Linked DNA regions of Homo sapiens. The protein of the gene in region 1 purifies or fractionates together with the protein of each later gene. This does not show direct contact. Each region holds a gene or a part of one and is shown on either strand. Other genes may lie near its edges. The genes, in order: PPIP5K2, LUZP1 and ZC3H15.

Region 1 (3,659 bases):
TGAGATTCATAATCCCATTTTACAGATGATGACTAGAGAGGTTCAATAACTTGACTAAGGACACAGAGCTGAGCAACTTGCAGAAAAAGTTTTCAAACCCAGTTTTGAGTCTAGAGCAATTGTTCTCATAGTGTGATTCCAGGACGACGAGCAACATCAGCATCACCTTGGAACTTTTGGAAAGGCAAAATATTGGGCCCCACCCCCAGAGTTTTGAGATTAGTATTAACAAGCCCTACAGGTGATTCTGTTGCATGCTAATGTTTGAGAACTACTGCATTGAGTGTGGACATTTTTAGTAGCATAACACTCATTTCAGATTTAGAAATCAGGTTTAAGGGATATTTGTCTTTTGTACAGTTAGATTCCCAAACCTGGCTGCTCATCCATTTGTAAAAATACAGTTTTTCTAGTTAAGAATTACTGTTTAGGAATTCCTAATCTGTGATAAGCCCAGTAACTTGTGTTTTTACAAGTCTACCAGATAATTCTGATGTAACCAGTCCATTTTGGGACCACTGCTATAGAAGGAATTCTAAAAATAAAGTAAGGTTCAACACTGATATTTGAATAATGTATGTATCTTTATGCCCAGACAGTTAGCATATGTTGAAATTAATGACTGAACATTGATCAAAATGCTAAATAATATGGAAGTGCTATATGTATAAACTGTACTTCGTTCAAGTATCAGCGCTTTAAGTGAAATAATACAAACCATTTTGAATGTCCTGCATCTCTTATGATGCTCATAAAATCTCATCTTGGCCGGGCGCGGTGGCTCACACCTGTAATCCCAGCACTTTGGGAGGCCGAGGCGGGAGGATCACGAGGTCAGGAGATTGAAACCATCCTGGCTAACACTGTGAAACTCCGTCTCTACTAAAAATACAAAAAATTAGCTGAGTGTGGTGGTGGGTGCCTGTAGTCCCAGCTACTTGGGAGGCTGAGGCAGGAGAATGGTGTGAACCCGGGAGGAGGAGCTTGTAGTGAGCCGAGATCGTGCCACTGCACTCCAACCTGGGGACAGAGCGAGACTCCATCTCAAAAAAAAAAAAAAAATCTCCTCTTGTACTACGACATATATCCTACTTAGGTGACAGAAATGTATTTGAATTTATTTTATATTTTTAGTTTTCTGAGAATTTATATTTGCCATGCTGTCATAAGGACTGTGGAGTCCTCATTTTTGCTCTTTAGTATAATGGCCTTTGGTTTAAACAGACCTGGGTTTGACTTCCATTTGCAACCCTTATTGGCTCTGTGATGATGATCAAATTACCTGAACTTTCTGAACCTCAAGTCTTAATTTATAATGACAAAATGGACACATATCTACATACATAAAACATTTATAAAATGAAGAATATATTTCTAATTCCAGGATGGCTGTGAGATTGTTAAATCACAAAGTAGTAAGTAATTTCTTCCCAACTTTTTTCATATTAAGGCATACCTAGAAAATGGTAGTATTTGTACAGTATCCTGGGGAAACTGAAGAGAGTGCTACTGGAAGCAACTGGCCAGGGTATAACAGCTGCCTTAAAGGCTGAGGCAATTAATTTCTTGGCATACTTACAATTCATTTATGGTGAGACAACATGTTGGGAGGCTCTGAATTTACAAGTAAGGTACTTACTAGGTAACAGTGCCTAATAAATGTTCCTTCCCTTGAGATTTATGTTGTGGAGGGATATACATAACCCAAGCTGTTAAATAACAAGGTTATATGTGACCAAAGGTCAAAACGAATGATTCGGAGAAGGTCTTGTAAATTGTTAAGGCAAGTTTTGTAGAGGAGTATCTATTGGATACTTGAGATGTGCCAACCACCAGAAGACAAAAATTCTGCTTCATCGGTTTTATCTCCTTTTTATTATAGGAAATTTCCTATAGTACTTGTTTTCAAAAACTGGTTCTCAAACTTGGCTACACATTGGAATTACCTGGGAAGACTTAAAATTACCCGAACTCTACTCTCAATCATTTTGATTTAAGTGATGTGGAGTATAGCCTAGACGTTGGGATACAAGCACTCTTAGTATATTATCTTACATATAACATCATTAAAATGACCTATGAGCTATGTACAATTTACAGATGAGGAAATTGAGGCCATAAGAAGTTAACTCACTTGCTCAAGATCAGCTAATTGGAGTCAGTCAGGTTTTAAACCCAGGTATTTTAACCCCTGAATCCATGCTCTTAACCACTAGCCTGTTCAGTTTTTTTTTTTTTATATGACATCTCTAAGTATCTCTCATATACTAAAGTGGAATAACAGAAAAAAAAAGAAAGGCTTCCTTCACTTTATGTCCTTTAGAGGTCCAATTCCTCTGTCCATCTTTTATAAACTCTTCAAAATAACTGTCTGTATAACTTGTCTGTATTTCATCTCCTTCTATTTTCTTGTTTGTTTGAGACAGAGTCTCACTCTGTTGCCCAGGCTGGAGTGCAGTGGTGCAATCCCGGCTTACTGCAACCTCCACCTCCAGGGTTCAAGTGATTCTCCTGCCCCAGCCTCCTGAGTAGCTGGGATTACAGGCGCATGCCACCATGCCGGGCTAATTTTTATATTTTAGCAGAGACGGGGTTTCACCATGTTGGCCAGACTGGTCTTGAACTCCTGGCCTCAAGTGATCCGCCTGCCTCAGCTTCCCTAAATGCAGTGCAATCACATTTAACAAATTGAAAATTCTTACTATGGCTTCTCAGTCCTTTGTGTGCATCTTAGCTACTTATCTGACATGATTTTTTACCATTTTTCCTTTGCTTGCCTGCTCTGCTCCACCTTACTCTTTCATGAACATGGGAAATATGCCAAGCATACTTCTGCTTTAGAGGCTTTATACTTGATGTTTCTTACCTGGAATGTTCACACCATATAACCCCATGGTTGGTTTCTCATTTAAATTAAATTTATATTTAAATGTCACCTTATTAAAGAGGTCTTTCTAACATGTATTTATTTGTTGATTTACCTAGTCCCTCACCAAATGAATGAATGAGACATGTTTCAGACCTAAGGTCATAATCAAATGAGGGACATATATCTATATACTTCATACAGCATTACAGACTTAAACAGAACTTGAATAAGTTAACAAAAGGGGACAGACCAGTCATTAATTCATACCCTTGGGAAAAAAAAATCTATTGGATACATACTTTTTTTTCCCCGAAAGTTGATTTCTACTTACACACATATTTTGTAAAGTATTTCAAAAATGTGGGAGAATTATATTGAAAAGACTATGTATTAGTCAGGGTTCTCTAGAGGGACAGAACTAATAGGATAGATATAGCTACAAATGGGAGTTTATTAAGTAGTATTAAGTCACACGATCGATCACAAGGTCCCACAATAGGCCATGTGCAAGCTGAGGAGCATGGAAGCCAATCCGAGTCCCAAAGCTGAAGAACTGGGAGTCTGATGTTTAAGAGCAGGAAGCAACCAGCACAGGAGAAAGATGCAGGCTGGGAGGCTAAGCTAGTCTATCTAGCCTTTTCACGTTTTTTTTTTTTTTTTCTGTCTGCCTTATATTCTAGCTGCACTGGCAGCTGATAAGATGGTGCCCACCCAGATTAAGGGTGGGTCTGCCTTTCCCGGAACACTGACTCAAATGTTTATCTCCTTTGGCAGCACCCTCACAGATACA
Region 2 (2,823 bases), on another chromosome or scaffold:
AGCATTGCAGAAAATAACATTGTAATAGCAAGTAAAGGCTGGAGGCTGTTTCTCTGGGCTTCAAATGGCTGGCAAGGCTGGCTCTCAAATCCCAAAGTTGGGAGGCATGTTTCTGAAAAGCAACTGAGGTGTGACTGTTTGGACCCAGGCCTCATCATCAGGGGTCCTGGAGGAAGCCTCCAAGTAGAGGGGAGACCTGGTAGTTGAATAGTTGTTTAATCAAGCCAAATAGTCCCACTGCCCCCGGTCAACAAACCCACTTTTATGACAGTTTTCTTCCGCAGCTTGGCTCTTAAATTTTACTGGCAGGTGTATGGTTGTTGGAGGGTTCCTAGTGAGTTGGGGGACCTGGCAATAGAGCTGCTTGGTTGGAGGAAGTGAAGCTGGCTTAGTACCAGCAGCTGATCTCTTCCACGTGCTGCTGCTTTTTTTGCCACTCTGATACTAAACCAGAGAAAGCTGCAGGTGGATAAAGAAGCTGTGGCTGTTTTTTGCTTTTGGGTGGCAATGAGAAAGAGTCACAGTGTGGGTTAAAGGGATCTGCAGTGGGGCCAAGGATGCCACCCCACCCTCAGCTGTAGGCAAGCTTGCACATAAATAACCCCCGTCAGTGGAGTGTTCGGGATGCAGGGGGCACTATAGTGTTCTTGGACTTGTCGTCCTGGGGCAGTTTTAGTTCTTTATATTTAGTGGGTCAGTGCCAAGTGCTACCACTTCCCAATAAAGGAATGGGGACCCAGAGGCTGGGTCCCTGGCTACCTTGTTATGAGGTTTTGTTATTTCTCTGACAAGATTGCTTTGGAAAGAGCTGCTTTTAGGGATTATTTTTTGAATACCCCGAGTGGGGAGCAGGGTTCTCCTCAAAGCCTCACAACCATAGGATCATAGGAAAGGGGCCCTATTTTCCTGCTGCTTCCCAGCTCAGAACATATACTGAATGGAATGTATTTTTAAGAGAATAAAGTCTATTTTTTTGTATTTTAAAGATTGAGAGGGCTAAGAAAGTAGCCCTCAAATAAACTGTTATTGCATTATAGGCCCCTTTGTTGGGGGCAGCCTGTTGGTCCACACCTACTTGCTCAGGCAGGTGCTCTGGTCTCTCTCACCCCTGCCCCTTAGAGTCTAGGTGCAGCAGCTCCAAGCATGGGACCAAGGAGGCCAGAACCTGTCGCTGGAAACCAGGGCAAAGCAGTGGCTCAGGGCTCCTTGGGTGCATGTGTATCATTGGAGCTGCCTGTCTGCATGTATCCTCTGGCGCGAATGCTCTCTGTTGGCTCTGCAGTACAATATGTAACCAATAAAGCTCCCTCGTTTCCGTATACTCTGTGCGAGTCTGTGATGCCAGTTTTGTCAATGTCATCCCTGTGTATCATCTGTCTTCTATGCGTTGGCGCAGCTCTAGTATATTTATTTATTTCATTGTGTAATACTTAAAATTGGGTATTTTACCTAACCAATTACTGATACTGCAAGGACTGGAAACATTAACTGCCCTGATCCTGGTGTGCAGATTCTTTCCATTACTGCCACGAATTCTAAGACTAGGGGGGGAAAAGCCTTCTCCGTTTTCATCTTCCAGTCAGATCACCAATATATATAATGATGTCCCTTAACTCACAGTAAGAAAGAATAAAACCACATTTAAGGGACATTACTTGGATTTGCAGTAACAGTGTTTATCATCTATCTGTCAGTCAGTCAGGAGCCCCTGGGAAGGAACCAGCATGTAACATGTTTTTATCATCTTATATGGCAAAAGGGACTTTGCAGATAAGGATGCTGGGATGAGGCAGAACATCCTAGATGATCCAGGTGGGCCTTAAATGTAATCACAGGTAGTATCCTTTTAAGAGAGAGACAAAAGATTTGACTACAGGAGAAGGCAATGTGATGATGGAAGCAGAAACTGGAGTTATGTGCTCTGAGGATGGAGGAAGGAGCCACGAGCCTTCCCACACCTAGAAGCTGAAAAGAGCAAGGAAATGAACTGATCCTCCCTGCTCTGAGAGCCTCTGTAATGAATGCAGCCCTGTGTACCCATTTTAGACTTTAAGCTTCCAGAACTTTCGAATAGATTTCTGTTTTTTTAAGAGCCACTAAGTTTGTGGCAATCTGTTAAACCAGCTGTTACCTAAGCCCTTGATCCTATGTAGTGCGCTTCCCAAAATGTACACCACCACCTTTAGTAGAATTGGGAAGTTTTAGCACATACCCATGGAGGGAATCAGGAATAAAGGCAGACTGGTCTCCCAAAGGCTCAGACTTTGTTTCAGCTCTTTTGTGTTCTATCTTGAAAGTGCATCCAAAGTTTCCTAATAACCATGTTCTTGGCACACCACCACACTCCACCCCCACCCAAGTGAGGAAGCCTAGTCCGACTGACCAGGAAGTCCACTGCTTCTACAGGACCGGCCCCCCTACCTTATCTTCTGACCTGATCAAACCATTTTTCTCTTTTATATGAACATCTTCTTCCTTATTTAAACATGGAGAAAACATGTATTACTATTGCCATAGGATAAACTTGGCATTTCCAAAGGAGTAATGCCCCCATCTTGTATGTAACTCCAACTCAAAGGAACAAAAGAGAGGGCCAATTTTATATGAAGTTTTATTCTCAAAATATAAAAAAAAAACAAAAACCCCACACACCAAGGGACTAAGATGATGTTATTTCACAGCACTTGCTTGCCTCAGTCTTTACGAAGAACACAATTCCAAACTAATGGACAAGTTCCTCCCTGTGCTCTAGGTCATTCAAAGGAGGCAAGCTCCTTTGTCAAATCAGGAGCTCCATCAGCTGATCAGGAGCCCAGATGCCAG
Region 3 (3,659 bases), on another chromosome or scaffold:
GCAAATAGTTTTCACCTGCAATATTCTTCTGTGAAAACAACCCACTCCCCAGAAACGTACAGGTTCATTTTGAAGATGAGACAAGCAAACATCCTGAAATGTACAGTCCCACATGATAATGAATTATACCACCCCAAAAACCTATATAGTGCCCTCATGGAAAAACACTGGGTTAGGTCAATGTAGGATATTAAACAAAACAATTCAAAACAAAACATGACATATAACATAGTTCCAGGCACACGATTTACATACCTAATATGATTAGAGGATTCATCCAAACATTTATACGTCAGGTCCTATGTTAGATGACAGAGAATACAATGAAAAGACAAAGATGCTTATTTAAAGAAGCTCAGAATCTAGCAGGATGACAGACATGTCAACAACTGTAACATAGTACATAGTGCTCTGGGAACAAAGAATGCCCATATACCTGAGAAAACTAAATTGAGCCAATAACCTTATGGATGAGTTTTTCTTGATGGGCAAGAAAAGAAATACAGAAAGAGCCAGCCAATGCAAAGTTACAGGGACTAGAGGAATAAAGTATGAGAAACATCAGTAAGATGCTTAGATTGCATCAGTAGCTTGAACAGAGTTCTCTCAACTGTTTAAAGTAACCCAATAACAAGGTCAGGTCACATTTTATAAAATATCAAGAGGGCAAGTTTTGTAGAGGATGGATTGGGAATCCAAGAATAAAGGCAAGAGGCTGCTGCAACTGCTGTACACAATAAAACACAAGAGCTTAAAATGAGCATTACTGGTAAGGATGGAGAAAAGGAGACAGAGCTGATAGGACTGACTGAACATGAAGTATAAAGGGGGAGGAATCTAGGATTATCATGTATATGGTTAGTGCCGTTAAACAAGACAGGGAATACAGGAGGAACAGGTTTCAGGGTAAGAGGTGAAGATGAGCTTAGTTTTAGACATACAGAGTGCAAGATGCTTACAAAGCATCTGGGTAGAGCTCTTTTGAAGGCAGATAGACATGCATATTGATTCCACTGAAATCAGAGAGGGTCTGCTTTGAGATAAAGACTTTAGAAATAGCAGCTTACAGGTAACAATTAAAACTTTGGGTATATGGTACTTAAGGAGAGCATAAAAAAGTGGCAAGAGTAAAGGACACTTCCTTGAAGAAAATCAACATAAAATGGGACAAAAGAACCTAAAAAGTCCAATAAAAAGACCTAGAAACATCAAAGAAGCAGGTAGAAAACCAGGACAAAATGTGTTCAAGAAAGAGGAAATTTTAGGAAAGGAATGGCCAAATGCTATAATTAGGTCAAAGACATCCCAAATCCTGAATATGACTCTATATGGTGGATGTGTTTAAACACAAAAAATGTTTTGAAAGAAAAAATTTAAGTCGCTTAATTTTTAATAGAAGTATCCTTTGCTCATCAGGCCCATCTCAAACATTTGTGGGGCAATGTTTGAGCAAGAATACAATGGAGGTCTACAAGCCATTTATCTAAATATTTAAAATTAGAAATCAAGTTCATGATGAATAAAATATGGTCTGTAACCCTACTCGACAAATATACCTTATGACCTGGAAGGACAGGTTCAAATTTAAAATGCTCAGACTCCATGGAGTTCCACACTGAAGCATGGCAGCAACACAAGAGTTAGCCCTGGGCTCTTTTTTCTCCTCTTCCCACCCCGTTTCATTCCATTTTGGGTGTAGGGGGAGGTAAAGGTGCAAGAAGGAAGGAAAGGGTATGGATGCAGGCTCTGTTCAAACCCTTAGCGTACACTGTTCTCTTGGCTACCTCAGACATATTGGTAGCACAATGGACAGAGATGGGCATGGTGGAGAGGCCTTTGTAGGCAGATAAACCAGGGTCAGAATGTTGTAGGAAGAGATGTTGCAAAATCTGGGTGGGTACATCCCCTTGGCTTCAGTGACTCCTTACCTGAGGGGAGACAGCAGTCTGGAGAAGACACATGTATCGCAGGGCCTAGACCAGGATACCCCCTGTCCAGCTCTAAGAGCAGCACTACTGCTCATTTCCGATGTTATATATGATGGGTAGGTACCCCATGTTCACAGATAAGTCCAGTTATCCACGCAAGTATCAAAAATATAGTATTAAATATACTATCAAAGCTAACTACCAGCACACACATTTCATAACTTTCCCAGGTTTATGAATTCTGATATCACCACTCAAAACACTTTCCACTAGAAGAAAAAGTTGGGGAAGAGAAAGCAGGATTGAAAAAGGGGCTAAGTGAAGAAAGTGAGTTCTTCTTACATATTGATATCTATATTCACCAGAAAATTTACATTATTTTCTTATTTAACCACCAGAAGAATCCAACAAAGAATAACTGCACTTCCACAGTACAGATAAAGACCAGGGTTGCTATTTAAGGATCATGTAACAAAAAAGATAGGAAGATTCACACCCAAGTCTATCTCACTGCAAGGTCTCAGCTGATCTGCCCGCCCCGGCCTCCCAAAGTGCTGGGATTACAGGCGTGAGCTCTAAACATTAATTTTTATTAAACCGGGCTATTAAGTTAGCAGTTTGGAAGAGCAATAGTTTTAGATTCTAGAATCAAGCTGGGAAAATGGATGTGAAAGGAAAGTGTTGGGTCACTGATTTGCAGACAGCATGAGCAAGAGAAATTTACTTATCTCACAAATACATATTAGCAGATTTTTAAAAAATCTGTAAACACATGAGAAATTCTTTCTTCTCTCCTACATTACAAAAATGTGTTTCCAGAAGTTAATGAAAAGGAGATAAAAATGGTGGAAAAATGTACTTTAAAAATAAAGATCCATGTCTATGAAATCTTTACAAGTGAGAGGTCTAAAGAACCTGAAAAAAAAAGGGGCTACATTTTTTTCAAATGAGTTGCCAATGGATAAACTCATTTTAAAATTCGTATGAAAGAATAAATGCCTAAGAACAACCAGGAAAAATAGAAAAGGTATACCATTTTGGGGAAAAGACTTGCCTTGAGACTTTAATGTACAGTCAAGCACAGAATTAATGACATTTAGGTCAATGAGGGACCACATATGACAGTAATCCTGTAAGGTTATAATACCATATTTTTACTCTATCTTTTCTATGTTCAGACACAAATCATTACTAATGTGTTACAACTGCCTACAGTATTCAGTACAGTAACATGCTGTATAAGTTAGAAGCCTTGGATCAATAGGCTATACCATATAGCCTAGGTGTGTAGTAGGCTGTAATATCTAGGTTTGTGTAAGTACACTCTATGATATTTGCACAATGACTAAATCGCCTAACGACACATTTCTCAGATTGTATCCACATCACTAAACAATGTATGACTATGACTGTAGGATAATAGTGGTATTTCAGTTGGATAAATGATGCTGGTGTAAGCAGCTATTCATTTAAAAGAAAACAAACTTAGTCTGGGCATGGTGGCTCACGTGTGTAATCCTAGCACTTTGGGAGGCCAAGGCAGGCGGATTGTGAGGCCACCCTGGGTGACACGGCGAAATCCCGTCTCTACAAAAAATACAAAAATTAGCTAGGTGTGGTGTCATGCGCCTGTAGTCCCAGCTACTTAGGAGGATGAGGCAGGTGGATGGCTTGAACCCAGGAGGCAGAGGCCGCAGTGAGCCAAGATCACACCATTGTATTCCTGCCTGG

Evidence for each region.
Region 2: the proteins of PPIP5K2 (region 1) and LUZP1 purify together in Homo sapiens (affinity purification with mass spectrometry, with the first as the bait; one large-scale study listed by BioGRID). This does not show direct contact.
Region 3: the proteins of PPIP5K2 (region 1) and ZC3H15 fractionate together in Homo sapiens (co-fractionation; one large-scale study listed by BioGRID). This does not show direct contact.

The regions. Positions count from the first base shown.
Region 1 is NC_000005.10:103,123,233-103,126,891, forward strand, and holds part of PPIP5K2 (inositol hexakisphosphate and diphosphoinositol-pentakisphosphate kinase 2), read left to right. Parts: intron 1-3,659. UniProt on the Homo sapiens protein: Bifunctional inositol kinase that acts in concert with the IP6K kinases IP6K1, IP6K2 and IP6K3 to synthesize the diphosphate group-containing inositol pyrophosphates diphosphoinositol pentakisphosphate, PP-InsP5, and bis-diphosphoinositol tetrakisphosphate, (PP)2-InsP4.
Region 2 is NC_000001.11:23,083,461-23,086,283, reverse strand, and holds the end of LUZP1 (leucine zipper protein 1), read left to right. Parts: 3' UTR 1-2,254; downstream 2,255-2,823.
Region 3 is NC_000002.12:186,496,259-186,499,917, reverse strand, and holds part of ZC3H15 (zinc finger CCCH domain-containing protein 15), read right to left. Parts: intron 1-3,659. UniProt on the Homo sapiens protein: Protects DRG1 from proteolytic degradation. Stimulates DRG1 GTPase activity likely by increasing the affinity for the potassium ions.